Linked DNA regions of Homo sapiens. The protein of the gene in region 1 interacts with the protein of each later gene in a biochemical or structural test. Each region holds a gene or a part of one and is shown in the gene's direction. Other genes may lie near its edges.

Region 1 (16,221 bases):
AGAGTTCAGTGGTATGATCATGGCTGGCTGCAGCCTCAATCTCCTGGGCTCAAGCAGTTCTCCCACCTCAGCCTGCCAAGTAGCTGGGACTACAAGCATGTACCACCATGTCCAGCCAATTTTTAAAATTTTTGTAGAGACAGGGTCTCACCATGTTGTCCAGGCTAGTCTCCAACTCCTGGACTCAAGTGATCCTCCTGCCTTGGCCTCCCAAAGTACTGGAATTACAGGTGTGAGCCACCGTGCCTGGCCTCCCTTTTTGTGATAATAGCTATCCTGGTGGGTGTGAAATGGTCTTTCATTGTGTGTTTTTTGTTGTTGTTTGTTTGTTGTTTGTTTTCAAGACGGAGTCTCACTCTGTCGCCAGGCTGGAGTGCAGTGGCGTGATCTTGGCTCACTGCAACCTCCGACTCCTGGGTTCAAGCAATTCTTCTGCCTCAGCCTCCCGAGTAGCTGGGATTACAGGCACATGCCACCATGCCCAGCTAATTTTTGTATTTTTAGTGGAGATGGGGTTTCACCATTTTGGCCAGGATGGTCTCAATCTCCTGACCTCGTGATCCGTCCACCTTGGTTTCCCAAAGTGCTGGGATTACAGGTGTGAGCCACTGCACCGGGCCTGTTTGTTTGTTTGTTTATTTTTTGAGATGGAATCTCACTCTGTCGCCCAGGCTAGAGTGGCGCAGATGAGTACAGCAATACCCTATATATGTTCTCTTTCTCTCTCTTTTTTTTTTTTTGAAACGGATTCTTGCTCTGTCGCTAGGCTGGAGTGCAGTGGCGCGATCTTGGCTCATTGCAACCTCCCTCCCGGATTAAAGCGATTCTCCTGCCTCAGCCTCCCAAGTAGCTGGGACTACAAGTGTGCGCCACCATGCCCAGCTAATTTTTGTATTTTTAGTAGAGACGGGGTTTCACCATGTTGGCCAGGATGGTCTCGATCTCTTGATCCCCCCGCCTCGGCCTCCCAAAATGCTGGGATTACAGGTGTGAGCCCCTGTGCCTGGCCCGTAGTCTCTCATTTTAAACATATTCCAACTTAATGCTATCAAATATTTTATATTTTGTTGTAATTAACATATTAAATATTTTTAATGTACTTAAAAGGTACACCAGAGTTTCTTGCAGGAAAGCCAAAATATCTATTAGCTCCTTTCCCTTAGTTCCTTTCTCCTATCTAATAGAAATCAGTTTTTATATACATTTCATTGCTACTTAAAAACCAAATATCTTTTAACCAGATTTGAAATCAAGAAAAAACTAAAAACAGCCAAAAAGAAAGAAAAGAAAGAAAAGAAGAAAAAGCAAGAAGAGGAGCAAGAAAAGAAAAAACTGACACAGATTCAAGAATCTCAGGTAGGAGATTCAGTGTTCCTCATTGTCCAAAGAATAAACCTGTTTTGAGTGTGTGTGTGTGTGTGTGTGTGTGTGTGTGTGTAAAAGGTGGATTTATATTAATCAGCCTAAGTTTATAAGACTTGTGACATGGTTTCATTAATCTCTGGACATATCACCATTAGCTGTGCTGTTAAATCCTTAGCACTTTTTCCTTTGCTTTCCTTTTTCCTTTTCTTTTTTCTTTCTTCTTTCTTTTTCCCTTTTCTTCCCCTCCCTTCCTCCTTCCCCCTTCCCTTCCTCCTTCCCTTCCTCTTCCCTTTCCCTGGTCTCATTATGTTGCCCGGGCTAGAATACAGTGGCTATTCACTGGCACAGTCATAACACACTGAAGCCTCAAACTCCTAGTCTCAAGCAGTCCTCCTGAGTTGCTGAGACTACAGGCATATGCTACCGTGCCCGGCTTTCACTGAAGTCTGCATTTAAAAAGCAGCCCTCAACTGCAGTGACTCACATGTGTAATCCCAGCACTTTGAGAGGCCGAGGCAGACAGATCACTCAAGGCCAGGAGTTTGAGACCAGCCTGGCCAACGTGGCGAAATCCTGTCTCTACTAAAAATACAAAAATTAGCCTGGCGTGGTGGCTTATGCCTTTAATCCCAGCTACTCGGGGGGCTGAGGCACAAGAATTGCTTGAACCTCAGAAGCGGAGGTTGCAGTGAGCTGAGATCATGCCATGGCCCTCCAGCCTGGGCAGAAGAGCGAGGCTCTGTTTTAAAAAAAAAAAGCAGCCCACTAGTGAGTGACCATCCCTTAAGGAAAAGTTGGTAAACAACCTGTCCTAGGTAGCCAGATGCTTATGATGTTTACTTAGATGTATATCATCCTTTACTTGGTATAAATATAGCTGGGAAAATAATCTCTGTATTTATCATAAATGAGACTCCATCTCAGAAAAACAACAAAAAAAGATAATGTGGGGCTGAGTGTAGTGGCTTATGCCTGTAATCCCAACATTAGCTGTGTTGTAGTGTGTTCTTCCAGAAAGAGTTTATTCGGATAATTCTTGAACTTGGAATAGGCATTTTAGACAGGGCTTACTTTACTGCGCTATCCTCTTTGTCCACAAGAGGATGCTCTCTCCCCTTACATAAAAGCTCTAAGTTTTTGCAGCCCATATAGATTGATGTTGGAGGACTAAATGCATTAAGTAGGTTTAGAGAATCTTATCAGCTGTTGGTAAAAAGGGCCATTCTATATATCCTTCCCTTCCTAGGTAACATCCCACAACAAGGAACGGCGTTCCAAGCGGGATGAGAAACTAGACAAGAAATCTCAAGCCATGGAGGAGCTAAAAGCAGAGCGAGAAAAACGAAAGAACAGAACAGGTAAGCGAGGGAAATATAATGGCTACTTGTGTCTTTATATGATTTGACTTCCTGGTGTCCATTTTCATTTTGCCCTCTTGTTATATCTTTCTCATATAAAATTCCAGCACATACCCAGAATAGTATAAACATCCACAAACCCATCATCCAGCCACAGCAGTCAGCTCTTGGCCAGTCTTGTTAAATCTATAATCCTTTCATCAGATTATTTTAAAGCAAATACCAGCATTATTATATTTTAACCATAAATATTTCAGTATGTTCCTCTAAAAGATAAGTACTTTTGTTTTAAACCTAACTATAATACCATTATTACACCTAGAAATAACAATGAACTCTTTGTCAAATATCTAGTCAGTGTTCAAATTTTTCTATTTGTTTTGTAATTTAAAAAACAAGATTTTAAAAACATTTCTATTTGTTTTGTAATTTAAAAAACAAGACCACTTGAATCAGGATCTTAAAGTCCATACATTGTGATCTGTTAATACGTCCCTTAAGGCATTTAATCTGTATGTTTTCTTCCCCATCTCTTTGCCCTGCCTTGCAGCGTTATTTGCTGAAGGAACTGGGTCATTTGTCTTCTGGTTTCTCACATTGCTGACTACATCTCGTTTTTGTTGTTGAATGTGTTTCTGGTCCCTTGGGTTTCCTGTAAATGGTTAGTTAGAGCTACAGAATTGGTCAGATTTGGGTTTGTTCTGTTGTTGTCATTGTTGCTTGTTCTTGGGGAAGGCTGATTTTTAGGTAGTGGTATGTATTTCCATCAGGAGACACATGATATCTGACTGTCTCTCAGTTTGTGATGTTAACAATCCTGTCAGTTAGCTCTTACCACAATAATGTGAAGTAACAAACTAACCCCTGTTCTGCTCATGCATCTGAAGTTCAACTGCAATTCACCCTCCTGATGGCATGAGTTCAGCTGGAATTATCTCCAAGCTATAGGTGGTAGCCAGGTCTGTTCTACCTCTCTCTTCCTCCCTGGGCCAGTAAACCCCGAGCACTTTTATATGGTGATGACAGAAGTATAAAAGGGGCAAGCAAAGACACACATGCCTCTTAGGGCCTAGACTTGGAATTGGCATAGTGTCACTATGGGGCCGGGAAGAATGACTAAGGCATATAGCAAAGGACATGGGTATAGAGATGGGTGAAGAATTAGAAAGGATACTGTGGGGGCCGGTCGTGGTGCCTCACAATTGTAATCCTAGCACTTTGGGAGGCCAAGGTGGGCGGATCACCTGAGGTCAGGAGCTTGAGACCAGCCTGGCAAACATGGTGAAACCCCATCTCTACAAAAAATACAAAAATTAGCTGGCCATGGTTGTGCATGCCTGTAATCCCAGCTCCTCAGGAGGCTGAGGCAGGAGAATCCCTTGAACCCGGGAGACGGAGGTTGCAGTGAGCTGAGATTCCGCCACTGCGCTCCAGCCTGGACAACAGAGTGAGACTCAATCTTAAAAAAAAAACAACAAAAGATAATGTGGGGCTGAGTGTAGTGGCTCACGCTTGTAATCCCAGCACTTCGGGAGGCTGAGGCTGGAGGATTGCTTGAGGCCAGGAGTTCAAGACCGGCCTGGCCAACATGGTGCAAGCCCATCTCTACTAAAAATAATAAAATTAGCCAGGCCAGGCACGGTGGCTCACACCTGTAATCCCAGCACTTTGTGAGGTCAGAGCAGGCAGATCACGTGAGGTCTGGAGTTGGAGACCAGCCTGGCCAACAGAGTGAAATCCCGTCTCTACTAAAAGTACAAAAATTAGTCAGGCGTGGTAGCACATGCCTGTAATCCCAGCTACTTGTGGGGCTGAGGCACTGAAAATCACTTGAACCCGGGAGGTGGAGGTTGCAGTGAGCCAAGATCCTACCATTGCACTCCAGCCTGGGCAACAAGAGTGAGACTCTGTCTCAAAAAAAAAGAAAAAGAAATAATAACGTGTTCTGTCCTAGTAGCCACTGATGGTCATTACCTAGATAATTTAATTCATTAGGAGTTGCAAAATGGTGATATTTCGAATCTGTCATTCTTTCCTCATTCATTATCTAGCCTGCTTCTATAAAGAGAAACCTTTTTTTTTTGAGACGGAGTCTCGCTCTGTCGCCCAGGTTGGAGTGCAGTGGCGCGATCTCGGCTCACTGCAAGCTCCGCCTCCTGGGTTCACACCATTCTCCTGCCTCAGCCTCCTGAGTAGCTGGGACTACAGGCACCTGCCACCACGCCCAGCTAATTTTTTGTATTTTTAGTAGAGAAGGGGTTTCACCATGTTAGCCAGGATGGTCTTGATCTCCTGACCTTGTGATCCGCCCGCCTCGGCCTCCCAAAGTGCTGGGATTACAGGTGTGAGCCACCGCACCCGGCCTAAAGAGAAACTTCTAATCAGCTATTTAGTTACCCCCCAGGCACATTTTGAACAGGAAAGGCAAGATAAATGCTTGATTAATTTTCCTTTCGTTTACCAGTTTTTGAAAGAATGAGATAGTTCCTGGCAAGGTACAGTGGCTCACATGTGTAATTCAAGACCAGCCTGGGCAACATAGTGAGACCCTGTTTCTGCAATATTTTAAAGAGAGAGAGAGAGATAGTTTTTAGCAACTTCCAAAGATGACTGATGGGTTTTATTTATTTTGAATATCCTTGTGAACTCATCATTTTTAACGTGCTTTATGTGTTTTAATCCATTGCAGTTATTTTTCCTTCCTTCCATCCATCTTTTTCTCTCTCTCTTTTTTGAGACAGGATCTCTCTCTGTTACTCAGTCTGGAGTGCAGTGGCGCGATCTCGGCTCATTGCAACCTTCACCTCCCGGGTTCAAGCGATTCTCCCACCTCAGCCTCTTGAGTAGCTGAGACTACATGCGTGCACCACCACCTAATTTTGTTTTGTATTTTTAGTAGAGATGGGGTTTAGCCATGTTGGCCAGGGTGGTCTTGAACTCCTGACCTTAAGTGATCCGCCTTGCCTTGGCCTCCCAAAGTGCATGAGCCAACACTCCCAGCCTAAAATTTTTTTATATTATTCTTTTTTCTTTTTAAATCGTAAGTACACAGATTAACCTGCCATCTTAGATTAATGGTAGCATATTATACACAGTTTTCTCTCTCTTTTTTTTTTAGCCACCACTCCTGGTTTGTTTTTTGTATTTTTGGTAGAGATGCAGATTCACCATGTTGCCCAGGCTGGTCCCAAACCCCTGAGCTCAAGTGATCTACCCACCTCGACCTCCCAAAGTGCTGGGATTACAGGCATGAGTCACCATGCCTGGCCACGTTCCTTTTTTTTTTTTTGAGATGGAGTCTCGCTCTGTTGCCCAGGCTGGAGTGCAGTGGTATACAGTCTTGGCTCACTGCAACCTCCGCCTCCCGGGTTCAAGCGATTCTCCTGCCTCAGCCTCCCAAGTAGCTGGGATAACAGGTGCCGGCCACAATGCCTGGCTAATTTTTGTATTTTAGTAGAGACAGAGTTTCACCATGTTGACCAAGCTGGTCTCGAACTCCTGACCTCAAGTGATCCACCTGCCTCTGCCTCCCAAAGTGCTGAGATTACAGGCGTAAGCCACCGCACCCGTCCCCACGTTCCTTTTTTATAGCTGCATAGTAGTTCATTGGTAGATGTACCAGTGGTGATTTAGCCACTCTCCTATTTTAAATTTTCCTCAGAAGCTTCTGAAGTCATCATGAGTCTTTCCCCCTCTTTCCTCCCCATAGTCAAGTGTCTTGAGTGCCATAAAAGAGAACTGTCAGTAGTGTTGGTGACCCTTTCTGCCCACCTAGTATCAATCTTCCAGCCCTTTTTTCATCTGCTGGGGCCTGACATTTGGCACCTGAATAATTTTAACTCTGTGTTTTAACTCATTTCTGTATATACCCCAAGTTAGCACAATCCAGTCTAGAGAGGACGGAGCTGTGTATTTGAGTCCTCTTCCATTTCCAGTTCTTTTTCAAGGATGAATTCATTTTCTTGTTGAGAAAACCTAGGTAAACATCTCTTCTTTCTTTCTAGCTGAGCTCCTTGCCAAAAAACAGCCATTAAAAACCAGTGAGGTCTACTCTGATGATGAAGAGGAGGAAGAGGATGACAAATCCAGTGAAAAGTCAGACCGCTCATCACGAACATCATCGTCTGATGAAGAAGAGGAGTAAGCTCTTGTACATTTTGGTCTAGTAGGCAGGATAGGTGGGTTTTTGAGGAAGAGCTTGGTATCGTTTCCAAAATCTCCCTGGTTGGGCCACTAACTCTGACATGGTTACCTTTGGTTTGCTGAACTGAGTTCCCCAGCACGTCAGCCCATTCATTTGGCTGCTAGCCTGTACGCTTAGACATTTCACCTGGGCCTGGAAGGTAGGAACTGACTTCGTGTCATTCTCAGATTGGCCTGGAGCTTTCATTCATTTTCTTTTTTTTTTTTTTTTTTTTTTTTTTGAGACGGAGTCTCGCTCTGTCGCCCAGGCTGGAGTGCAGTGGCAGGATCTCGGCTCACTGCAAGCTCCGCCTCCCGGGTTCACGCCATTCTCTTGCCTCAGCCTCCCAAGTAGCTGGGACTATAGGCGCCCGCCACTACGCCCGGCTAATTTTTTGTATTTTTAATAGAGACAGGGTTTCACTGTTTTAGCCGGGATGGTCTCGATCTCCTGACCTCGTGATCCGCCCGCCTCGGCCTCCCAAAGTGCTGGGATTACAGGCTCATTCATTTTCTTACTCTGATGGGTTATCTAAGATGGCAGCCTCATTTGAAACAGCTCATACTACTGGTCAGGAACAGGATCCTATTACAAGTCTTTGCTGGTGCTTCATTTACTTCTCCTCCTAGGCCAGTCACATGTACTTTGGTTAAGTTTTGAGGAGTTGATATTATTTTTCTGTCTTGTTCTGTTTTTATGATGAACATTTTTTCCAGTGCCCCTTTGTTCCTCTTAGGAAAGAAGAGATCCCTCCCAAATCCCAACCAGTTTCCTTACCTGAAGAATTGAATCGGGTTCGATTATCACGGCATAAGCTAGAACGCTGGTGTCACATGCCCTTCTTTGCTAAAACTGTCACAGGATGTTTTGTGCGGATTGGCATCGGAAACCACAACAGCAAACCAGTTTACCGGGTTGGTATTTCTTCCCTTGGACAATTGTCCATGCTTTCAGTATAATTAGTCTCAACTGAGGGCAGGAGCTACTGAAAAAATCGATCACTCTTCTCTCAGCATTTGATGGAAAGTAGACTCCAAGTGGGATCCCCATAGAGCAGTGAGGTGCCCAGGAATCCTTCATGACTTGTTGCCAAGAGGAGGACTTGGAGCCCAAGGGCCTGGAAGATTTGGATGTAGAATAATTTTCTCTATTCTCCCTTCAGTATAAAAGGGAGAAGGGAGGCATCTATGAAGTGTTCATTGGGAGTTACATAATCTAAAAGATTTGTTCATTTGAAAAACCAATGAATGAAAAGTTTCATGTTGCATACCAAGTGACTTCTACACCAGGGAATTGTATTGAGGTTAAAAAAAACCCTCCAGACTAATACAGGTTATTATGTAGGTTCCAGCACTGCTTCTGTGGTCTAGGTGGACTGGGCACAGTGGCTTACTCCTGTAATCCCAACACTTTGGGATTTATTTATTTATTTATTTATATTTTATTTTACCATTATTATTATTTTTTTATTTTTATTTTTTGAGACGGAGTCTCATTCTGTCACCCAGGCTGGAGTGCAATGGCGTGGTCTTGGCTCACTGCAACCTCCGCCTCCCGGGTTCAAGTGATTCTCCCGCCTCAGCCTCCCAAGTAGCTGGGACTACAGGCGCATGCCACCACACCTGGCTAATTTTTGTATTTTTAGTAGAGACGGGGTTTCACCATGTTGGCGAGGCTGGTCTTGAACTCTTGACCTTGTGATCCACCTGCCTCAGCCTCCCAAAGTGCTGGCGTGAGCCACCGCACCTGGCCTATTTTTATTTTTATTTATTTGTTGTTTTTTTTTTTCAGACAGAGTTTCGCTTTTGTCGCCCAGGCTGGAGTGCAATGGCACGATCTTGGCTCACTGCAACCTCCGCCTCCTGGGTTCAAGTAATTCCCCTGCCTCAGCCTCCCGAGTAGCTAGTGTTACAGGCACCCGCCACCGTGCCTGGCTACTGTTTGTATTTTTAGTAGAGATGGGGTTTCACCATGTTGGCCAGGCTGGTCTTGAACTCCTGACCTCAGGTGATCCACCTGTCTCGGCCTCCCAAAGTGCTGGGATTATTGACATGAGCCACTGAGCCCGGCCTTATTTTTAATTTTTTGTTTTTTATTTTTGGAGACAGAGTCTTACCCCGTTGCCCAGGCTGGAGTGCAGTGGCACGCTCTTGGCTCACTGCAGCCTCTGCCTCCTGGGTTCAAGCGATTCTCATGCCTCAGCCTCCAAGTAGCTGGGACTACAGGCATGCGCCACCACGCCTGGCTGATTTTTTTTTAGACTGAGTCTCTTTTTTTTTTTTTTTAGACGGAGTCTCGCTATGTGGCCCAGGCTGGAGTTCAGTGGCACGATCTCGGCTCACTGCAAACTCTGGCTCCCAGGTTCACGCCATTCTCCTGTCTCAGCCTCCCCAGTAGCTGGGACTACAGGCGCCCGCAACCACGCCTGGTTAATTTTTTGTATTTTTAGTGGAGATGGGGTTTCACCGTGTTAGCCAGGATGGTCTTGATCTCCTAACCTCGTGATCCGCCCGCCTCGGCCTCCCAAAGTGCTGGGATTACAGGCGTGAGCCACCGCACCCGGCCTCACTTTGGGATTTAAAAAAAAATTTTTGTAGCAACAGCCTCTCTCTGTTTCTTATGCTGGTCTCAAACTCCGGGCCTCAAGTGATGTTCTGGCCTCAGCCTCCTAAAGTGCTTGGTGTTGGTTTTTTGTTTTGTTTTGTTTTGTTTTTTTGAGACGGAGTCTCGCCCTGTCATCCAGGCTGGAGTGCAGTGGCGCGATCTTGGCTTACTGCAAGCTCCCACTCCTGGGTTCACGCCATTCTCCTGCCTCAGCCTCCCGAGTAGCTGGGACTACAGGCGCCCACCACCATGCCAGCTAATTTTTTGTATTTTTAGTAGAGACGGGGTTTCACCTTGTTAGCCAGGATGGTCTCGATCTCCTGACTTCGTGATCTGCCTTCCTTGGCCTCCCAAAATGCTGGGATTACAGGTGTGAGCCACCACGCCCGGCCCAGGTGTTGGGTTTTTTTTTTTTTTTTGAGACAGTGTCTTAACCATGTTGCCCAGGCTAATCCGGAACTCCTGGACTCAAGCCATCTTCCTGCCTCGGTTTTCGAAAGTGCTAGGTTTGCAGGTATGAGACACTGTGCCCAGCCTGTTTGAGATAGGATCTCGCCCTGTTGCCCAGGCTAGCATGCAGCGGTGTGATCAGAGCTCATTGCAACCTTGAACTCCTGGACTCAAACGATCCTCCTACAACAGCCTCTTGAGTAGCTAGGACTGTAGGTGCACACCACTATGCCCAACTAATTTTTTTTTTCTTTTTTGTAGAGACTGGGTCTCGGCTGGGCGCAGTGGCTCACGCCTGTAATCCCAGTACTTTGGGAGGCAGGTGGATCACGAGGTCAGGAGATCGAGACCATCCTGGCTAACATGGTGAAACCCCTCTCTACTAAAAATACAAAAAATTAGCTTGGCGTGGTGGCATGTGCCTGTAGTCCCGGCTACTTGGGCGGCTGAGGCAGGAGAATCACTTGAACCAGGGAGGCAGAGGTTGCAGTGAGCCAAAATCATGCCATTGCACTCCAGCCTGGGCGACAGAGCAAGACTTTGTCTCAAAAACAAAAAACAAAAAAAAAGAGAGACTGGGTCTCTCTGTGTTGCTGAGGTTGGTCTCAAATTCCTGGCTTCAAGTAATCCTCCTACCTCAGCCTCCCAAAGTGCTGGAATTACAGGCCTGAACCTCGGCGCCCAGCCTGGATTGTTTTTGTTTTGTTTTATTCTTGTCTGGTTTTTATGTGTGTTATCCCCTTGTATGAGGACCTGCAGCCATGCCATATCCTGAAATGCTTGGCAACAGAAACTGACCTACATGGTCTTCACATTTGGTTGATAAAAATCAACTGGTGAAATCCCAAATACATCCCTTGTAAGTTAGAATTAGTTGGAGGAAAAGCTTCCAGTGGGCCCCATCGGGCTCCTCTTCTGCTGGCACTTTCTCCTCCTGGGCACAAGGCTCCCTGTGCTTGGCCATCTGGATTCTAAACCTGAGAAACCTTTCTCAGAACCCCTGGCAGCTGTGGACTCTACTCAGCACTCTATCAGTTGTCTGCGTTCAGGTAGAGAGACGCAAAGGAAGAGTGTTGTGGAAAGCTCCGGAAGAGTCTGGTTTTGACTGGCGTCTCTGTCCTCTCACTTAGGTCGCTGAGATTACGGGTGTTGTGGAAACTGCCAAAGTTTACCAACTAGGTGGCACCAGAACAAACAAAGGGCTGCAACTACGGTAGGAGGCACTTCTGGGGTAGCTTCTGCTTCCACTTCAAACAGGCACTGGCTTTGGGGGCTGCTGTTCTCTCTGTGTGATGTTCCTTGTTACCATGAACGCTATGTATGCAATCCCCACAAGGTACACTTGGAGGGAGACTTGTATTCCATCTTTGTCTATAGGGAAGGTAGGATATTCTCTCCTCTAGAGGGAACCAAATATATGAAGGGGTAGGACACAGAGAAAGGAAATGTGTGGTTATGAGAGACCCTCCCAGAGCCTCGCTGGCATTTCCTTGGCAAGCATGTCCAAGAGGCTTGCTTCTGGTTCTGGCTCTATGTCATAACCTCATCTGTGACAAGAAAGATCATTTTTATGGACTTCATTTCCTCTTCAGTAAAATGAAAGTGTCATTCACTCAGCAAATATTTACCGAATGTACAGTGTGCCAGGCACTGCTCTAGGTGCCATCATAGTGCACTGCAGCTTGGAACTCCTGGGCTCAGGTGATCCTCCCACCTCAGTCTCCTGAGGAGCTGTGACCACAGGCATGTAACCCTGTCCCAGGCTCTGTTGCATATTGTTGATGTTGACTGTAATGGATTTTATTGTAAATTGACTTTTGAAGCACTGACCAAGCCCATTTGGTTTCCAGTGCTAGCTTTGGGATCTCAATCTTGGCAGCTCATTAAAACAGCCTGGGATGATTTTATAGGGTAGCTAGGATTGAGAACCACTGCAATAGGTATATATAGGTGGTACATAGTCTGGTAAGGTTGCTTTGCTTGTACTACAGTCAACATGCACATTTCTTGGAGATGCTGTCTCTCTTTTATGTAGGCATGGCAATGACCAACGCGTGTTCCGTTTAGAGTTTGTCTCAAACCAAGAATTCACCGAAAGTGAGTTTATGAAGTGGAAAGAAGCGGTACGTGGCTAGAGATTACCTAGCAGTTGTTCGTGCACGTTGAGAAAATATCTTTCCAAAATCCCTTACTAATAATCTCGTATCGTGTTTTTGATCCAGATGTTCTCTGCTGGCATGCAGTTGCCCACTCTAGATGAAATCAATAAAAAGGAATTATCTATTAAAGAAGCTCTTAATTATAAATTCAATGATCAGGACATTGAAGAGGTAAGAAAACTGGTGCCCCAGAACCCGGAGGTTCATCAAGAACCAGTGTTGAGAGAACATGATTCTCTTTTATTTCCCTATATCTTGACATTTTTAGCTATGCATGAAAATGAGGGAATACTAATATTACTACCTGATTATTTATAGTTCATCAAGCTTTTTTCTATACATTCTCATGTCCGGATGAGGCTAACATAGACTGAAGTGTATTCAGAGTTCAGATGAGACAACAAATGAGGCTACATACACTAAAGTGTATTTAGGGTTCAGGGGTCTGTATTCTGCTAGGCTTGATCCTTCAAGAGTTTTCCTTTTCTAAAACATCTTGGTAAAATTATTTGATCTCTGTTCTCTTGGACAGTGGCTAGCCTTACACTACCAGGCCCTTGGGCTGCTGTTTCTTGGTGCATGTTCCTTCAGCCTGTCCCAGAAGAATCTCCGTGACCCAGGAAGCAGCATAGTATCCCTTGGAATGAACCCGCTCTCTCTCTCTCTGGGGCATGACACTGCTGTAGGAAGAGCAGCCCCTTTGTAACTAGCTGTTTGCATCCAAAATGGGCTCACTTAGCCTGTCTACAAAAATAGCTTAGGAATACCTCACTGCTGGTATCTCCTCTCTGGTACAGATTGTAAAAGAGAAAGAAAGGTTCAGAAAAGCTCCACCCAACTACGCTATGAAGAAGACTCAGCTACTGAAGGAAAAGGTAAGGAGTTGTACTCGAGCCTCTTTCCTCATCCTGTAAGGAGATGTGGAAATCAAACTTGTTCATCCTCTGCCAAGTTAGTGGTGGTAGGATTGGGAGAAAATTCTGGGCTCGATTATAAGCAACACAGTGTGTTCTTGGCACCTGGGCAACGTTCCTTGGCCATTTTCCATTCCCTAAATTCAAACTCATCTTCTGCGTGTGTGCCAGTCTTCTTACTTTCTAGTCACTTCAGTTTCCTTTGTAATAAAATAGACCCTGGGGTGGTATTTAACACTGAGTCTGAACAGACAGATGACACTGTCAAGGCCACCTGTGGCTGGTGATTTTCCATTCTTCACACTGGGTTGGGGTGGGCCTTGTTATGGTGGTTTAGCCACCCTGTGAGGCCTGGGGTTCTACTGCCACCAGGGACCCACAGCCAGGTAGCTGTATGGGAAGGTGTTCCCCACTGTACTGTGCACTACTATAATATAAATTATATCTTGTATTTGTAAAGTACTTCTACAGTATTCTTCCACATCTCCTGTCCTTTGCTCACCACATGAGATATCTTTGCCTGTGCTGGAAGTAAGGGGATACTTGATATGGAGTCAGTTGTATGTAGCCAAGAACGAACTCACACATCTCTCTATGTGTAGGCCATGGCTGAGGACCTGGGGGATCAGGACAAGGCCAAACAAATCCAAGATCAACTGAATGAGCTGGAGGAACGGGCAGAGGCCCTGGACCGCCAGCGGACCAAGAACATATCCGCTATCAGGTGTGTTATGGAGCCTATTTTTGGCCCGCAGACCTTGGCCAAAATTATCAGGCAAGCCTGTGGCCTGTACACTCTGTGCTGCACTGACCCCATAGATATCTGAGTTCAGGGCTCAGTGGTTCCCTCCCTCCCTTGTTTCACAGCCACTGACTCATCCCTCTTACCCCACAGTTACATCAACCAGCGGAACCGGGAGTGGAACATTGTAGAGTCTGAGAAGGCCCTTGTGGTAAGAAAACTTTATCTGAATCACTAAAACAAAGTTAATTAATAAACCATGACATCTTTTCTACATCTTGCCTAAGTTTATTTTTTAATTATTGAAATAACGTAGGCACTTAACGTATACACACTCTCTCTGTATGTCCACGTACATCGATATAATTTATTCATAATGAAAAGCAGCAGTCTTCTGCCCTGTCCTACCTCTTCCCACCCTTAGATTCTACTCCACAGGTATTTGTTTTTTCTCAATTTCTGTTTCTTGGTTGTTTCCCCCATATCTACTCTGGTATTCTTGAAGGGAAAAGGATAATATGCCGGGCGCGGTGTCTCACGCCTGTAATCCCAGCACTTTGGGAGGCCGAGGCGGGTGGATCACCTGGGGTCAGGAGTTTGAAACCAGCCTGGCCAGCATGACAAAACCCTGTCTCTCCTAAAAATACAAAAATGAGCCGGACATGGTGGTGCACGCCTGTAATCCCAGCTACTTGGGAGGCTGAGGCACGAGAATCACTTGAACCTGGGATGTGGAGATTGCAGTGAGCTGTCGTGCCACTGCACTTTAGCCTGGGCAAGAGAGCGAGAATCCATTTAAAAAATAAAAAAAATTAGCCGGGCATGGTGGCTCACGCCTGTAATCCCAGCACTTTGGGAGGCTGAGGTGGGTGGATCACCTGAGGTCAGGAGTTTGAGAGCAGCCTGGCCAACATGGCGAAACCCTGTCTCTACTAAAAATACAAAAATTAGCTGGGTTTGGTGGCTTGCACCTATAGTCCCAGCTGCTGGAGAGGCTGAGGCAGGAGAATCACTTGAACCTGAGAGGCAGCAGATGCAATGAGCTGAGATTGCGTCACTGCACTTCAGCCTAGGCGACAGGGCGAGACTCCATCTCAAAAAAAATTAAAAAAAAAAAAAAAGGAAAAGGATAATAGCTTTTTTTTTTTTCAGTCCCGTGCAAAGACTTATTTGCCTGTGAGCTTATGGTGAATGAGAGGAGGGGCTGGAGGTGCAGTTCTGTGGTGCATGCTTTCTGTTTCAGGCTGAAAGTCACAACATGAAAAACCAACAGATGGATCCCTTTACTCGGCGGCAGTGCAAGCCTACCATCGTTTCTAATGTGAGTGCTGAAAGAGGACATTTTAGTCAGGACCTAGATTCTAGGACACAAAATGAATTCCATTAGGAAATTAATAATGAAGTTAAAAATAATGTTTTCTTAGCTGGGATTTGCTTGTCTGAAGCTCTTGGGTCTGGATACTTCCTTTTTTATCTTGCTATAGGACATATCGGTAGTGAAAACGTGGCATGGATTTATAAAAACCTAGTGACTGATCCTCCTGTATCAGGGTGGGTTTACAGTGCAGCAGACATTAGTAATGTGTCCCTTAGCTAGGGCCTGGCTGGGCTGGGCTTGGCTTTCAAGCTTGTAATTGCCTTTTTTTTTTTTTTTTTTGCTGCTTTGAGGAAAACCCCACTAGCTGCTGATGGGTCGGCTGTGGTGCTTGTGATGTTAGTTTGGTAGGTGGGAAAGAATCTGGCAGTAGGACTCTGTGAGTGTCAAGCAATCTCTAAAACAACTTATTTTCTCTCTCAGTCCAGAGACCCAGCTGTTCAAGCTGCCATCTTGGCCCAGCTGAATGCAAAATACGGTTCTGGAGTGTTACCAGATGCTCCAAAGGAAATGAGCAAGGCAAGTGTGGTACCACCCTGTTGCCTGCTGAGTGAGGCTGCTGGCTGAGATACCGAACAAGTACCTTGTCTAGTTTGGGCTTGATTTTTCCACCTTGAGGAACAGGGAGTCCCTCTTGGAGTCCCTTCTCCATCCCAGTTATTTACAGATATAATCAACAGACAACCTTAATTCCAAACCTGACACCACTACTTGCCTAGGGCCTTGACTATGTCCTTCAGCAGCTGGCTTCCAGCCCTCAGCATCCCCTTTTCTGCTGTGTAAAATGAGGGTACTACTGTATACCCTGCCAGCTTCACAGGAGGAGAGATAACATACAAAGATCAGACATTGTAAAAGTGAAAGCTTGTTGAAAATGGCACATTTAAAAGCAGTTTTCTTGCTGGGCGCAGTGGCTCATGCCTGTAATCCCAGCACTTTGGGAGGCGGAGGTGGGCGGATCACCTGAGGTCAGGAGTTCGAGACCAGCCTGGCCAACATGGTAGAACCCCGTCTCTACTAAAAATAGAAAAAAAATAGCTGGGCATGGTGGCGGGTTCCGATAACTCCAGC
Region 2 (16,221 bases), on another chromosome or scaffold:
AGTAATGTACACTTTTTTCTCACAAATCTTTTGTTTCCCCACAATTTAATCTGCAAACTACATACCCTGATCTTATATTGAGAGTTAACAATACTGAATTGTTGAATAGTATGACATATAGTATGAATGTTTTCCATTTTCTAGTTAGAAAAAGGGAGGGTGAGTCTTGATTTATATATGGGAGCTTAATTTAATTTGAAAGTATCCAGTCTTAACATGTAACATTTGGATTTAAAGTTTTATATACAGGAATATTTGTTATTTTATACGAATTCATCCTTTTTCTTTTCTCTCATTCTGCACCATGGCTAGTTTGACCTGATTTTCTCCTTACTCTGCCCTTTCTACTTTGATTTCCTGACTGTCTCTTTTATTTTTTCTGCCTAGTTTATTTCCTTCTATCCTCTTGCATATTTGTATAGCAGTCTTCTGAGTGTGTCTGTATATGTGATTGGCAGATTAACTAAATGATTTCTTTGCATTGAAGCCTGAGTCACAGGAGACTAGACAGTTCTTTCTGTAACTTTCTCTACTCTGCTGGAGCAGCCAGAATTTATGGAGTTACGAAAAATGAATTGCCTGCTAGATCAGTTACTTCCTGTGCCTGAGGGATCAGGAATCATCAGTGCAGGAGCACTGTGGGTATCAGGTGAAGCCCAGAAAAGAAGTCTAGCGGGCAGTGAAGTGATCAGATTCTAACGAACTAAACTGAACGGTTTCTTTATGTCAGGCAAATGGGGTTTAAGAAATAGGAATGCAGTTTAATTACCTGGTATTAGAATTTTCTTTTAATCTGTTACAATAATTTGACAATTCTTTATGCCTATTTTTAGATGACTACATTGCAATTGGAGCTGATGAGGAAGAATTAGGATCTCAAATTGAAGAAGATATCCTTTGTGTGTATATTCATAATTGTTTTTTTTAATAAGTAATATTTATTGAACATATGCAAATGCCAGGCACGGTTTTACATGCAGTAGTCCTTCCAATGAATTAGGTGCTCTCATCCCATTTTACAGAGAGAAAACAGAAGCAGAAGAGGATTGGTCATTGTTCTAGATCACACAGCCTGACACTGACAGGGCTGGGATTCCATTGTAGGGAATTTGGCTCCAAGCCCATGACCTTGACCACCACGCTAGACTTTTTCCTTCATGTTGAAGCTGAATGAACTAGAAACAGCGAAGTTTAAAAGGACCTGGCTCTTTGGAAACTGAAACATATAAATCCCTAGTAAAATTGCTTCAGATAGCAGGAGAGTGAAAATATGATTGAGAACAAGAAAGGCAAACCGATAACATAATTAGAAGAGATTACAAAATACATGAGAACATTGGGTGTATCTCGTTGGCAATTTGAAAACCTAAAGAATTTCGCTTTCCTAGCAAAACATGAGTGTCCAAGATTGACTTTATGTACTTGGCAGGACAGGCTGTGTTATATTATGGTGACAACCTTGAAATTTCAGTGGCTTAACACCACAGAGGTTTCTTTCACAGATTAAACTGGACAAACAGGAATGTATTTGTCCTATATGTTCATCACAGGCTAGCTGAGGACTCTGGGCTTTGGGTCATTGTCCTCTAGGACCAGGCAGGTGGATTGGCCATTGTGAGTGGTGATGTGGCAGAAGGTAAAATGGATAAATTGCATACTGGCTTTCAAAACTACTGCTGAGGAGTGACATCTATTACTTCTGCTACCAGCCAGAAAGGTCTCTTGGTGTCACACAACTTCAAGTGGTCATAATTGTTTTAAGTAATCTGCTAGCTTAATTTTTCCTGTTGGTATAGAATTCAAAGTCTTATTCTTCACTTTTTATCTTGATTGTATTGTTTTCTTGGAAAGGAGAGGGACATCTATGTCATTTTATTTGTCTTGTTTTTCCTGTTATTGAAAAGGAAAGTACAGTATTGATGGCATTTATGACATTTAAATTTTTCTGCCTTGTAGATTGAGACTGTAGTGTCTGAATTTAAGTTGTGCAAAAGGGCATGGAAAGCACACACATATAAATGTGAAGACTTCTCAGTTAGGGGGACCTCAGAGCACACACAGTCACCTGAGCTCATTATCCCAGAGGAAGCGTGTTCTTGCTAAGCACCGGGAAAGGGCTCCAGGAGAGGGGTACTGTGTGTGAGTAGGGGCAGGGAGCATCTAGGTGGCTGTGTAACATGAGATTGTCCTGGTTGAGGAAATGGCCTTATTAGGAAGGGAGCTGTTCCAGGGTTCAGCTTTGGCAGTGGCCTCTTCTGCAGAGAAGAAGAGCCTGCTGAGGTAGCTCCTGCTGAGCTGGGGGAGGAGAGGAACCCTCACGGCCATGCTGAATGGTCTCTTCTCAGAGACCCTGTGGGAACTGTGTGACCAGAGAGACTTTAGGATCCTTAGTAGAATTCGGATTTGGGCAAGTAAAGCTTGAATAAGTTCAAGCTCCTTTTCAAACATGTGCTTTCTCATGTTGAGTACTTGAGTTACTTTTTGAAACCCTGTTGACTTGCATACTGCTGGCACTAAACATTTAGGAAATAAAACATGACTAGGCCGGGCGCGGTGGCTCACGCCTATAATCCCAGCACTTTGAGAGGCCGAGACGGGTGGATCACCTGAGGTCAGGAGTTTGAGACCAGCCTGGCCAACATGGTGAAACCCCGTCTCTACTAAAAATACAAAAATTAGCCGGGCATGGTGGCAGGCGCTTATAATCGCAGCAGCTACTCGGGAGGCTGAGGTAGGAGAACTGCTTGAACCCGGGAGGTGGAGGTTGCAGTGAGCTGAGGTCCAGCCTGGGTGACAGAGTGAGACTCCTTCTACCCACCTTCAAAACAAACAACTACTTTACAGTGTAAAAGTAATATCACTATTATTCGCCAATTACAGCTCAAGGAATTAGATATAGTACCTTGTTTTTAACATACTCTAAATTGGAAACAGTTGTCGTGAATTGCTTAGAAATTTCAGGTTTGTTTTTTTTTTTAAGATGGAGTGTCCCTCTGTCGCCCAGGCTGGAGTGTAGTGACCTGATCTCAGCTCGCTGCAACCTCTGCCTCCCAGGTCAAGTGGTTGTCCTGCCTCAGCCTCCCGAGTAGCTGGGACTGCAGGCACCTGCCACCATGCCTGGTTAATTTTTTGTGTTTTTAATAGAGACGGGGTTTCATCATGTTAGCCGGGATGGTCTCGATCTCCTGACCTCGTGATCCACCAGCCTCAGCCTCCCAAAGTGCTGGGATTACAGGCATGAGCCACCGTGCCTGGCCTCAGGAATTCTTATTTTGGCAGAACAGGAAAAAAAAGTGATCTTACTTTTGTAATTTTGCCTTTTTTCCTTAACGGCCTGGTACCTATATATCAAGAAATAAGGAATACAGACATGAAATACAAAAATAGAGTACGAAGTAGGATATCAAATCTTAAAGATGCAAAAAATCCAAATTTAAGGAAAAATGTCCTCTGTGGGAATATTCCTCCTGACTTATTTGCTAGAATGACAGCAGAGGTGAGTATGTGTGAATCTGAGGTTTCTATAATGTGATTCTGTGTTGTGAAGTGTAAAGCCTATTATCATCATAGACTACTATATAAATATTGCATATGTAATAAATTTCCGTTATTCTGATATATTTATATACTAGACAAATACTTAAGGTGATTGTGTCTTTTGTCAGTACTTTGCTCCCCCTCCAACTGTTTCCATGCTTTTAATGTGATTACACTAAATTATTTTCTAAAAACAAACGTGTTTTACTTTTTTTTCTTTCGAGACAGAGTTTTGCTTTTGTTGACCAGGCTGGAGTGCAATGGCACGATCTTGGCCCACCGCAACCTCCCCCTCCTGGGTTCAAGCGATTCTCCTGCCTCAGCCTCCCAAGTAGATGGGATTACAGGCGTGCACCACCACACCCAGCTAATTTTTGTATTTTTAGTAGAGACAGGGTTTCTTCATGTTGGTCAGGCTGGTCTCGAACTCCCAACCTCCAGATGATCTGTCCGCCTTGGCCTCCCAAAGTGTTGGAATTACAGGTGTGAGCCACCACGGCTGGCCACCAAGTGTTTTTTACTTTTTATGAATTAGTGTAGAACCAGAGAGTTGAATCTCTTAATTGCAAGTACACTTTGTAAGTGCTAACCTTTTTTGTGGTTAAACACTATAAAATTGGTCACATCATATTGATTATTTCTTTTTTTTTTTTGATACGAAATTTTGCCCTTGTTGCCTGGGCTGGGATGCAATGGCATAGTCTTGGCTCACTGCAACCTCTGCCTCCCGGGTTCAAGCGATTCTCCTGCTTCAGATTCTCCTGCTCCTGTAATCTCCTGCTGGGATCACAGGCGTGAGCCACTGTGCCCATCCTATTGATTATTTCTTAAATTTTTACAGGGAATTATGGAAAAAATGAAATTTATAGCTTGCTATTTATAGACATGGTTGTTCATAGATATTAGCTATATTGTATCTACAATTTCAACGTTTTAGTGAACATTGAAGAGAGTGAATTTTTCTTCTGTACACAAACATACCTCAGATACATTGCAAGTTTGGATTGGACTACTGCAATAAAGTGACACACGAGTCACACAAATTTTTTGACTTTCCAGTACATATAAAAGTTATGCTTATACTATAATCTACTAAATGTACAATAGCATTACATCTAAGAAAACAGTGTACACCTTATACCTTGCTAAACAATGTACACCTTGCTAAAAATTGCTCATGATCATCTGAGTCTTCAGCAAGTCATACTATTTTTCTGGAAAAGGGAATTGCCTGGATGTTGACGGCTGCTGACTGATTAGGGTAGTGGTTATTGAAGGTTGAGGTGGCTGTGGTAATTTTGTAAAATAAGACAACAGTGAGATTTGATGCATTGATGGAGCAAATATTCATGAAATATTTCTTGGTAGCCTGTGATGCTGTTTAATAGCATTTATCCATAGTAGATGTTCTTTCAGAATTGGAGTCAGTGCTGTCAAATGCTGCTGCTGCCTTATCAACTAAGTTGACATATTATTCTAAATCCTTTGCTGTCATTTCAACAATGTTCACAGCATCTTCACCAGGAATAGGTTCCATCTCAGGAAATTACTTTTTGCTCCTCCACAAGAAGCATCTCATCTATTCAGCTTTTATTATGAGATTGAAGCAACTCAGTCACATCTTGAAGCTCTACTTCTAATCTTCCTTCTCATGCTTTTTCCATTACATCTGTGGTTACTTTCATTTTTTTTTTTTTTTTTTTTTTTTGGTGGGGAATGGAGTTTCACTGTTGTCGCCCAGGCTGGAGTGCAGTGGTGTGATCTCTGCTCACTGCAACCTCTGCCTCCTGGGTTCAAGCGATTCTCCTGCCTTAGTCTCCTGAGTAGCTGGGATTACAGGCGCCCGCCACCAAGCCCAGCTAATTTTTGTACTTTTAGTAGAGACAGGGTTTCACCATGTTGGGCAGGCTGGTCTCAAACTCCTGACCTCAGGTGATCCACCCGCCTCGGCCTTCCAAAGTTCTGGGATTACAGGCGTGAGCCACCGTGCCTGGCCCCTCTGTGGTTACTTTCTCTGGTGAAGTCAAACCCCTCAAAGTCATCCATGATGATTGGAGTCAACTTTTTTCAAACTCCTCTAAATGTTGACATATTGACCTCTTCTCAATGAATCACTAATGTTCCTAATGGCATCTAGGATGGTTAATCCTTTCCAAAAGGTTTTCAGTTTACTTTATTCAGATCTATCTGAAGAATTACTTTTTGTAGAAGCTACAGCCTTGCAAAAAGTATTTCTGAAATAATAAAACTTGAAAGTCAGTTGGGCATGGTGGCCACACCTGTAATCAAAGCAGTTTGGGAAGCCGAGATGAGCAGATCACTTGAGTCCAGGAGGTGGAGACTAGCCCGGGCAACATAGCAAGTTCCCATCTCTACAAAAAAAAAAAAAAAAAAGAAAACTTAGCTGGGCATGGTGTGGTGCGTTCCTGTAATCCCAGCTACTCAGGAGGCTGAGGTGGGAGGATCACTTTAGGCCAAGAGGTGGAGGTTTCAGTAAGCTGAGATTGCACCACTGCGCTCCAGCGTGGGTGACAGAGTGAAATCCTGTCTCAAAAAAAAAAAAAAAAGTCAGAATTACTCCTTGATTCATGAACTGCAGAATCAATGTTGTTGTTAGCAGGCATGAAAATAACATTAATCTCCTTGTATGTCTCCATCAGAGCTATTGGATGACTAGGCATATTGATGACTAAGTGCATTGTCAATGAGTAGGAATATTTTGAAAGAAATCTTTTTTCTGAGCAGTAGGTCTCAATAGTGGGGTTAAAATATTCAGTAAATCATGCTGTAAATAGATGTGCTGTCATCCAGGCTTTGTTGTTTCATTTATAGAACACAGACAGAGTAGAGGTAGCATAATTCTTAAGGGCTGTAAGATTTTCCAAATGGTAAATGAGCATTGGCTTCAACTTGAAGTCACCAGATGCTTTAGCCCCTAACAAGAGAGTCCTTCAAAGTCCTTTGAGGCTTTGAAGGCAGGCGTTGACTTCTTCTCTTTAGCTGTGAAAGTCCTAGATGTCACCCTCTTCCAATATTCATCAACATTGAAAATCTTTGTTTAGAATAGCTACCTTCATCAATGATCTTAGCTAGATCTTTTGGATAACTTGCCGTAGCTTCTCCATCAGCACTTGCTGCTTCACCTTGCATTTTGTACTATGTTATGGAGACAGCTTCTTTCCTTAAACCTCATGAACCAGCTTCTGGTAGCCTCTTGACTTTTCTTCGGCAGCTTCCTCATCTCTCTCAGCATTAAAGAGTTAAGGCCTTTTTCTGGATTAGGCTTTGGCTTAAGGGAATGTTGTGGTTGGTTTGATCTTCTGTCTAGGCCACTAAAACGTTTTCATATCGGCAATAAGGCTATTTTGATCATTATTCATGTGTTCACTGGAGTAGCACTTTTAATTTCCATCAAGAAATTTTCCTTTGCATTCACAATTTGGCTAACTGGTGTAAGAGACCTAGCTTTTGGCTTATCCCAGCTTTCCATATGCCTTCCTCACTAAACTTAGTCTTATTTCTAGGTTTTGATTTAAAGTGAGACATGTTGACTCTTCCTTGTCCTTGAATACTTAGAGGCCATTGTAGGGTTATTAATTGGCCTGATTTCAATATTGTTGTGTCTCAGGGAGTAGGGAGGCCCAAGGAGAGGAAGAGAGACGGGGAAAGAGTGGAGCAGTCGGAACACACACAGCATTTGTCAAGCTTACTGTCCTATGTGGTCAAAGTTAGTGGTGCCCCTAAAACAGTGATAGTAACATAAGAAATTACTGATCACAGATTACCTAACAGATATAATAATAGTGAAAATGCTTGGAATATTGTGAGAATTACCAAGATGTGACACAGAGACATGAAATGAGCACATGCTTTTGGAAAAATAGCGCCAATAGATTTGCTCAACACAGCATTGCTGCAGACCTTCAATTTGTAAAAAATGCAGTAACTGCAAAGTGCAATAAAATGAAGCACAATAGCGCAGAGCAAGATAAAGCAAAGTATGACTGTAGCTGGTAAAAACTGGCGTGAGAAGATGACCCTGGCATATTCTATACATTTCTTGCCTCAAAACTGGAATCAGGCATTCCTCCAGAGATCCCTGACTTCTTTTGGGAGTGGGGTGTAGGCAATGCTATTAGAAACTATAATCTGGATACTAGAGGTACTCGTTGTAAGTTTACATTGTTCATAGTGTAATCACCTGACAGCTTCTTCCCGCCCACTACACAGACAAAACCAATTCACTGAGACTGCGCTATTGCGGTTAAGAAAGAGTTTTATTAATGCAAGGCTGGCCATGCAGGAGACGAAGTTATTACTCACATTAGTCTCCCTGAAGACTTGGAGGTTAGGGTTTTACAAGAATAGTTTGGTGGTAACTATTCCTAGGTGACTAGGGAATGGGTGCTGCTGATTGATTGGGGATGCAATCATAGGGATGTGGGAACTGGTCCTTCTGTACCTCTGGGTGAGGGGCCTGAGTTCTGGAGGGGTCAGTCTGAAAAACATCTCAAAAAACCAATCTCAGGTTCTACAATAATAATGTTACCTATAGGAGCAATTGGGGAAGTCACACACTTTGTGTCCTCTGGCCACATGACTCCTGAGCAGTGAGGGATTATAGAAACTATGTCTACATTTTAGCAGAGTTCAGGCCTGTCCCATAATCCTAATCCTCTGGCATTTCATTAGTCTTAACAAAGGTGATCTCAGGCTCTGAACAAGGAGGGATCGATTTTAGGGAAGGACTGTTACCATCTTTGCATCAAAGTTAAACTAAATTCCTTCCATGGTTAACTTGGCCTGTGCCCAGGAAAGAGGGAAGACAGCCAGCCTGTGACACTAGAAGCAAGATGGAGTCAGCCATGTTCAATTTCTCTCACTGTCATAATCTTTGCAAAGGTGGTTTTAGTAGCCTTTAAACAGTACTTAAATCCAATTTTCACATGTAAACTTTTAAGTATTTGAAGAAATTTTTAAAAGGAATTAAACTCTTACAAAGCCTTTGAGGAAAAATATTAATTTAATGCTTTTAAAACCTTAAAGGTTGATATGTGGTTTTATTATTATTAGGCTAATTGAGCATAAAAGCATTCAGGATATATATAGAAGGTGTCTATAACTGAGTGGTATTGCCCCCTACCTCATAGGAAATGGCTAGTGATGAGCTGAAAGAGATGCGGAAAAACTTGACCAAAGAAGCCATCAGAGAGCATCAGATGGCCAAGACTGGTGGGACCCAGACTGACTTGTTCACATGTGGCAAATGTAAAAAGAAGAATTGCACTTACACACAGGTTTGTGATTGTTTATAGATTCTTATTTTTATATAAAAATGCTTGCAACTCCTGTTTTAAAATAAATAGCAAAGATAATTACCAGTATGATAGTCCCTCACTTATCCATGGAGGGATATGTTCTAAGACCCTGAGTGGATGCCTGAAACCACGGATAGTACCTAACCCTATGTATACCACGTTTTTTCCGATACATATGTACTGATAAGTTTTATTTATAAATTAGGCATAGGAAGAGATTAACAATAATAACTTAATCAAATAGAATAATTATAACAAGATACTGTTATGAAAGTAATATGAGTGTAGTCTTTCTGTCTCTCACAGTGTCTTGCACTGTACTCACCCCTGTTCATTTGATGAGATGAGGCGAAGTGAATGATGTAGGCATTGTGACTAAGTGTTAGGCTGCTGTTGACCTTCTGATGATCCATCAGAAGGAGGCTCATCTGCTTCAGGTGGTCCTGCCTCATCGAGCCCTGATGATGTGGATGACTAATGGGTAGGTAGCATTACAGTGACACACACTGGACAAAGGGATGATCTGTATTCCAAGTGAGACAGAGTAGGATGGTACAGGCTGTCTTCATGCTACTCAGAACAATGTACAGTTTAAAACTGATGAATTGTTTATTTCTGGAATTTTTCATTTAATATTTTCAGACCATAGATAACTGAAACCATGGAAAGCAAAACCATGGATAACTGGGGACTAGTTCAAGAGGAGATAAGATTTCTTTCTTAAGTGTAAGAATGATTTTTTTTAAAAAAAATTATTATTATTTTTTTGCGGAGATGGGGTCTTGCTGCATTGTCCAGGCTGATCCCAAATTTCCAGACTCGAATGATCCTCTCACCTTGGCCTCCCGAAGTACTGGGAATACAGGCATGAGCCTCTGTGCCTTGTCAGAATGCTTTCTTAATACTGATTCTAGTTAACTAAAACCAAGTTGATATATTTATACTTTCACAGAAATAGTTACTATGAAAGCTATGTCAAAATTTATAAAATATAAGAATTAATAAAATGACCATGTTCTTTTTTAAAAGTTCATAAGCAATTGTATTGGTTACTAGGTAAATTGGCCATAATCCTTTTTATTTTGCAGGACTATATAATTTAAGGAAAGTTCTTCACGCTCCTCCACATGGCTTATGAGTACTTTAGGCTTAACTGTCTTCTGGATAATTTGTTCCTTTTTGTAATATTGATAACTTACATTTATGTACGATATGACTAGCCTTTTTATTCTTTAACAGCTGAAAACCGTGTTATAGTTATTTTGGTTGCATGTGCATATGTGAAAATTTTTTTTATCACTGTCTTAATTTCATTTGCCAAATAGGTTTTTGTGCTATGTTATCTGCTGTAAACTCAAGATTGTCTCCTTAAGGGACAACTTACTATGTTTCAGATAGTAGATTTGGGGAATTGATTTTTTCACCGATAGAACATTAAGCACTTAAAAAATAGCATCACTAAACTCTAAAGGGGCCTTTACTTAAAACAAATTTTGTTGGTAGTTATTTTTGTGGTTAAAAATTGAAAAAGTACAAAAGTTTATGAGTAGGAAATTCCATTCCCACTTTTGCCTGTGGCCACCTCGTTCTCCCTCCCTGAAAGTAAAGCAAGGTTACTAGTTTGTTGTGAAACTTAGGTATTTTATGTGTATACATGCAAATATTTTTGTTTTCCTTTTTCTTTGAGACAGAGTCTCACTCTATTGCCCAGGCTGGAGTGCAGTGGCGCCATCTCAGCTCACTGCAAACTCCGCCTCCCGGGTTCACGCCGTTCTCCTGCCTCAGCCTCCCGAGTAGCTGGGACTACAGGCACCCACCACAACGCCTGGCTAATTTTTTTGTATTTTTAGTAGAGACGGGGTTTCACTGTGTTAGCCAGGGTGGTCTCGATCTCCTGACCTCGTGATCTGCCTGTCTCAGCCTCCCAAAGTGCTGGGATTACAGGCGTGAGCCACCACGCCCAGCCTTTGTTTTCCTTTTTCTAAACACATATGGAAAATGTTATATGAGCTTCTGCCTCTTTTCTACTGTTTACAGACATGTAATCTCTATTTTCAGATATACTTAATTTAACTAGTCTGAAGTCCTTTACCTGTTTGAAGCCTCATTAAGTCACAGTTGTGTATTTCCATGTTTCATTTTGTAGCAGTTTTACTACTGATTGTTACTAAAATGCATCAACACTGATAAAAGTGGTCTCAGAAAATTCTGAGTTTGAATTGCTCTATTTTCTTTTAATCAGGTAGAAATATCTTAACAATAAAAATTGCACCCTAAAAAATGCCATCTATTAGAAAGTATTAAGTATAAATAGTTATTTAAAAGTTAAAACTTCTTTAAAAAGTAAAAGTGATATACTTACATAATCAAATTATAAATAGCTAAGACAAAAAACATAAATACCAAGTTTGTTTCTTTTAGCAAAAGGAACCCAGCCTAAAGTTGGAGCCAGTATGATTTTCTTAGAATCACAAAGTGTTCGCTTCAGATAGAAAACTCTCAAAGTTCTCATGGAAATAACAGATGTAAAAGAAATAAGTGTAACTCTTGATTACTACGTACCCAAGAGGAGATTAAAATTTTTCCCAGAGAGCAAAAGATTCATGTCCACTTTTGGGGCCCTGGATATCAGAATTAAGTATATATAAAGTATAGCAGGAGTTTTCAAACCATTTTCATCTGAAGGCCTTAAGTGAGTAGAACGCTGCTGTTCTGAGGATGGTGCTGCTTTGTCTTCCTTTGGGCCTTTGAGTTGGAAGGCATGTTAATAGTTTACCGGTGTCATGAACCTTTGATCTTTGAAGTGGTGATAAACTGGTATTTTATCATCTCTTACGGAATTTCAGTATACCTTATTCTAACTGCAACATTATTAGTATTTAGGTTCTTGCCACAACTTAAGAATAACATTTAACTTTAATAATGCTTTGTCATCTTCATTCAGAGAAATAACCTTTCTGTTTTTGAGACCTTTGATTCTGGTAATTCTCTTCAGTTTAGAACTTCAGAAATTTATAATCTTGTATAGATTAAGTTTTTAAAAATCATATTAGCTTTTTTTCTTGCTGAGTTCTCTTTTTAAGTTTTAAAAAAAGTAGTTGTGGTAGAATTTATATGTAACCTAAAATTTCCCAACTTAACCAGTTATTTTTAAGTGTACTGTTCAGTAGTAGAGCATTCACAGTGCTGTACATCCAGTCTCCGGAACACTTTTCCTCTTGCAAAAGTGAAACTCTTTACCCATTAAACAGTAACTCCCCATTCCCCTCTCCCCAGCCCAACAACCACCATTCTGCTCTCTGACTCTCAGAATTTGACTATACCAAGTACTTCATATAAGTAGAATCATAGAATGTTTGTCTTATTGTGACTGGCCTATTTCACTTAGCATAATATCTGCAAGGTTTATCTGTGTTGTGATATATGTCAGACTTTCCCTACTTTTTACGGCTGGATAATATTCCATTGTATGTTCATACCACATTTTGTATATTCATCTGTTGATGGACACTTGGGTTCCTTCTACTTTTTAGCTATTGTGAATAATGCTACTGTGAACTTAAGTGTACAGATACCTCTTTGAGACTCTACTTCCTTTCTTTTGGTTATGTACCCAACAGTGGAATTGCAGTAGTAATGGCTTATAGAAAAATTAGGAAAATACAGAAAAATATGAGTAATAAATTTAAGTCATCCATTAAGCTGCCTTCCAAAGAGAACAATTACCAGTATTTTGTTGTTTGCAATATTTAGTGAATTTTTTTCTGTGTATAGTTGGAATTAAGTACTGTAAAAACTATTTTATGCTCTTCTTTTAACTTAGCTACCATAATGTAAGCATTTCCCTCTCTTTTAAAATTTTTCCAGAGAATAGTTTGAGATGTATAAAATAAATCAGTGCTATACAAAAATAATAAAAATATTTTGCTCTTTTATTTACAAATTAATTTCATAAACAAACTTAACATGATAAACAACAAAAAGTTCTTCCATCTTTTATGGCTAGAAAAATAAATTATTTTAATAGCTATTTAAATCTGCCTCCTGCTCCCAGAGAAATTAATGTATTATATATATATATATTTCAAATTATCCCTAACCTTTAAACAAACAAGCGTAGATACTGCTCTATTTTTACATAGAATTGTAAACAGCCTTTTAAAAAGCTGGAGTAGGCTGGGTGCGGTGGCTCACATCTGGAATCCCAACACTTTGGGAGGCTGAGGCAGGCGGATCACCTGAGGTCAGGAGCTTGAGAACAGCCTGGCCAACATGGTGAAACCCCCATCTCTACTAAAAATACAAAAAATTAGGCAGGCGTGTTGGCGCTTGCCTGTAATCCTAGCTACTTAGGAGGCTGAGGCAGGAGAATTGCTTGAACCCAGGAAGTGGAGGTTGCAGTGAGCTGAGATCATGCCATTGCACTCCAGCCTGGGTGACAAGAATGAAACTCCGTCCCCCCCCCACCCCCACCCCCACTACCCCCCAAAAAAACCAGAAAGCTAGAGTAACTTTCCACTAGTTGGAATTGAACTTCATAAAATATAAACATTTTATAAACCCTACAATTCAGGTAATTTGATTTAATTATGACTAATCTATAGGAATATACAATACAAATTTGTCAGTCATCCACAATTAAGAACAACTATTTATGAAGAAAAATTTTACTATGTTTAGAATGAGATTTTATTCATATTCTTGAAAGGTAGCTTTGTTCCCAATAAATATTTCTCCTACTATTTCTGTATATTTTAGGGGATGTTTTCAATTCAAAAAGAAATAACATCCAGTTATTTGACTTTTTTTTTCTTGCTTGAAACTGCTCTGTTTTGGTTTTTACAGATTTAATAAACATTGACAAGGCAGGATCAGTGGACTTCACCGAAACCCCCACCTCCCTGGTTCAAATGATTCTCCTGCCTCAGCCTCCCGAGTAGCTGGGATTACAGGTGCCAGCCACCATGCCTGGCTAATTTTCTTGTATTTTTAGTAGAGACAGGGTTTCACCATGTTGGCCAGGCTGGTCTCGAACTCCTGACCTCAGGTGATCCACCCATCTTGGCCTCCCAAAGTGCTGGGATTATAGGCGTGAGCCACTGTGCCTGGCCCTCTTTTTTCTTTATTGCCTGAGTAAGTTCTTGTTTTTTCTGTTCTCTTTGCCAGGCTTTCTCCTCAAGGGTTTTTTCCACAGCTTTTGTTTTCTTGAAATTGGGATCTGAGGGATGCACATTGAACAAGTGGGAAGTGTACATTGCTTGAAACCATGCATTGCTAACATTTACCTCAAAGTCATCCTCTAATAATTTCTTTTTTTTCATGAGCTGCTTTTTCTTCTTTTTCTTCTTTTTGCTCAGGTTCTGGTGCTCCACAATCTTGTTGTAATTGAAGTGTTTCTTACTTTCCTCCTCCTCATCCAGTAAGGAAAGCCATTTCAGCCTTTCATCTTTCTATTTTGGTTTCTTCTTCTGGAGATGTGCCATCTTTTGCAGATTTTGTTCACTTTTTTCTTTATACCTATTTTTTTAAACTTCTTTAGCAAAGTACTGGTCATTCATATCAACATCAGAGGGAAGTTAATTTTCACTGGCCTCTTTAGCAAGAGTCTTCTTTTTCTTTTTGTCTTTTTTTCTTTCTTCTTTAAAAATTGTTCCCAAGGGGTCAGTTTATCCTTTCCTTTCAATTTGTTCTTGACCATCTCTTTGCACTTTCTTTAAGACCTGGAACCCACTTCGTTTCCATTTCCATATCATTTTCTTTGTCTTTCTTTTCTTTTTCTTGAATAACCTGCAAAAGTTGCCTATATTTAGTGATTTGTTCTTCATCGTCCTTCTGACTTTTGTTTTCCCATCTTCTTCTACATTGACTTCATCATCACCTTGTAGCTCCTCTTCTATCTCCTCTTCATTTTCGCTAGAGGAAGCTAAGTAGTCTTGAAAATCCATGTCCAAAAGCTCTTCCTTTTAAGCTTCCTGTTGAGTGTTGTAATTCTTTCATGTTCAGTCTCATCCCAAGTGATTTCCACCATTGATGTTCCCATTGCAGCAGATATGATATATATTTAGTTTATATGCTGTTAAATACACCTCTGAGGCTACGTCCTTCGGCTCATCATCAAAAGTAGTATCATCTGGTATAAACCTTAGATCTGTGAAAGAACAACTACTTTCAAATTCCAGGCCACCACAATCCTCATAAATTTTACTGGCTGTTTCAGGAGAATCACAGTCTACTACTGCATAATAGTACTTCAGTCATTTGAGTTGATAACCTCTCAGTTTTTCTCTAGAGGTCCAGTCCTTTTTTGGGGCATCTTCAGGAACACTTAATAGCTCTACTGATCCTCAAACTTGCTCTTCCTTCACCCTCTCCTTTCCAAACTCTGAAGAATATATTTTTACAGGAAATATAACACCTCCTTTAGGTTTAAATCAGTTGAACAGAGTCAGCAAATCTTTTGCCTTTAATCTATCCCAGTCCATGTTGCAAACTGCTAATTAATGTGTAATGTCATCAGCACGAGGAGCAGGTTTATCTGATTCTCTCCATGCATGCCCAAAACTTGATTCTTCTGGAAACAAATCTGCCATATCATCTTCATTTTCAGAACTAGTTTCTATATTTCCTTTACCCCTTGCAAGATTAGGGCTGCTGTCACTTGCATCATCATCCTCACCATTCTCTTCATCCTCCTCTTCATTTTCATCATCACTTCCATTGTCATCATCACCTGAAGCTCTACCAATACTTGTAATTTCATTTTTAGATTCCTCATCACTTCCTGTTTTACTAACACTTTCTAAATCTTCCTTTAGAGCATCTTTGTCAAACATTTTACTGTCTGTTGAGTTTTCATAACCATCACTGCCACTTGCCGTTATGGATGGAACCACTGGTTGCATTTCTCTTCTTGTCTTAGAACACTTGATCTTGGGAGATTTCACATCAGAGGTGCCCGAGTCTAATGTCCTTCATCTTTCTTTGAGAGAAGAGTTGATAGTATGTTGAATAATGTTTTTTTTCTCTTTTGTACTTTTTTGTGTAAATTTTTTGCTCTCCTTCTTTGGACTTATGTTGGGAGCTATCTTAGATTTACATGGTTTTCATTTTTTTAATTCTCTCAGAATTATCTATATCAGTTTTATTTTCAGAATCCTTTTGATTAGCTTTCTTGGTTTCTTTCTTTTTCTCAACTAGATTTTTTTGAATATTTCTTTTTTAGTCTGGAGTTTTTTCTTCTGTATTTTCTTTTGATTCATTGCTTTGCTATCTTTATCAGAAAGATCAGAATCAGAATCTGAAAGGTCATAAAAACGTTTCAAGTACTCTGCAGTGCTATGGTTAATGTGGTACCCTCTTATCCACA

The links.
Region 2: the proteins of RTF1 (region 1) and TCEA1 form a complex in vitro, tested with the Homo sapiens proteins (one study listed by BioGRID).

What each region holds. Positions count from the first base shown.
Region 1 is NC_000015.10:41,463,530-41,479,750, forward strand, and holds part of RTF1 (RNA polymerase-associated protein RTF1 homolog), read left to right. Parts: intron 1-1,241; coding exon 1,242-1,356; intron 1,357-2,611; coding exon 2,612-2,723; intron 2,724-6,727; coding exon 6,728-6,863; intron 6,864-7,642; coding exon 7,643-7,820; intron 7,821-11,090; coding exon 11,091-11,173; intron 11,174-11,995; coding exon 11,996-12,083; intron 12,084-12,182; coding exon 12,183-12,290; intron 12,291-12,916; coding exon 12,917-12,994; intron 12,995-13,635; coding exon 13,636-13,757; intron 13,758-13,928; coding exon 13,929-13,986; intron 13,987-15,018; coding exon 15,019-15,096; intron 15,097-15,573; coding exon 15,574-15,669; intron 15,670-15,897; exon of another isoform or gene 15,898-15,962; intron 15,963-16,221. UniProt on the Homo sapiens protein: Component of the PAF1 complex (PAF1C) which has multiple functions during transcription by RNA polymerase II and is implicated in regulation of development and maintenance of embryonic stem cell pluripotency.
Region 2 is NC_000008.11:53,971,638-53,987,858, reverse strand, and holds part of TCEA1 (transcription elongation factor A protein 1), read left to right. Parts: intron 1-833; coding exon 834-890; intron 891-3,341; coding exon 3,342-3,496; intron 3,497-8,687; coding exon 8,688-8,834; intron 8,835-9,161; exon of another isoform or gene 9,162-9,336; intron 9,337-16,221. Other genes in the region: LYPLA1-TCEA1 readthrough, read left to right, coding at 834-890, 3,342-3,496, 8,688-8,834.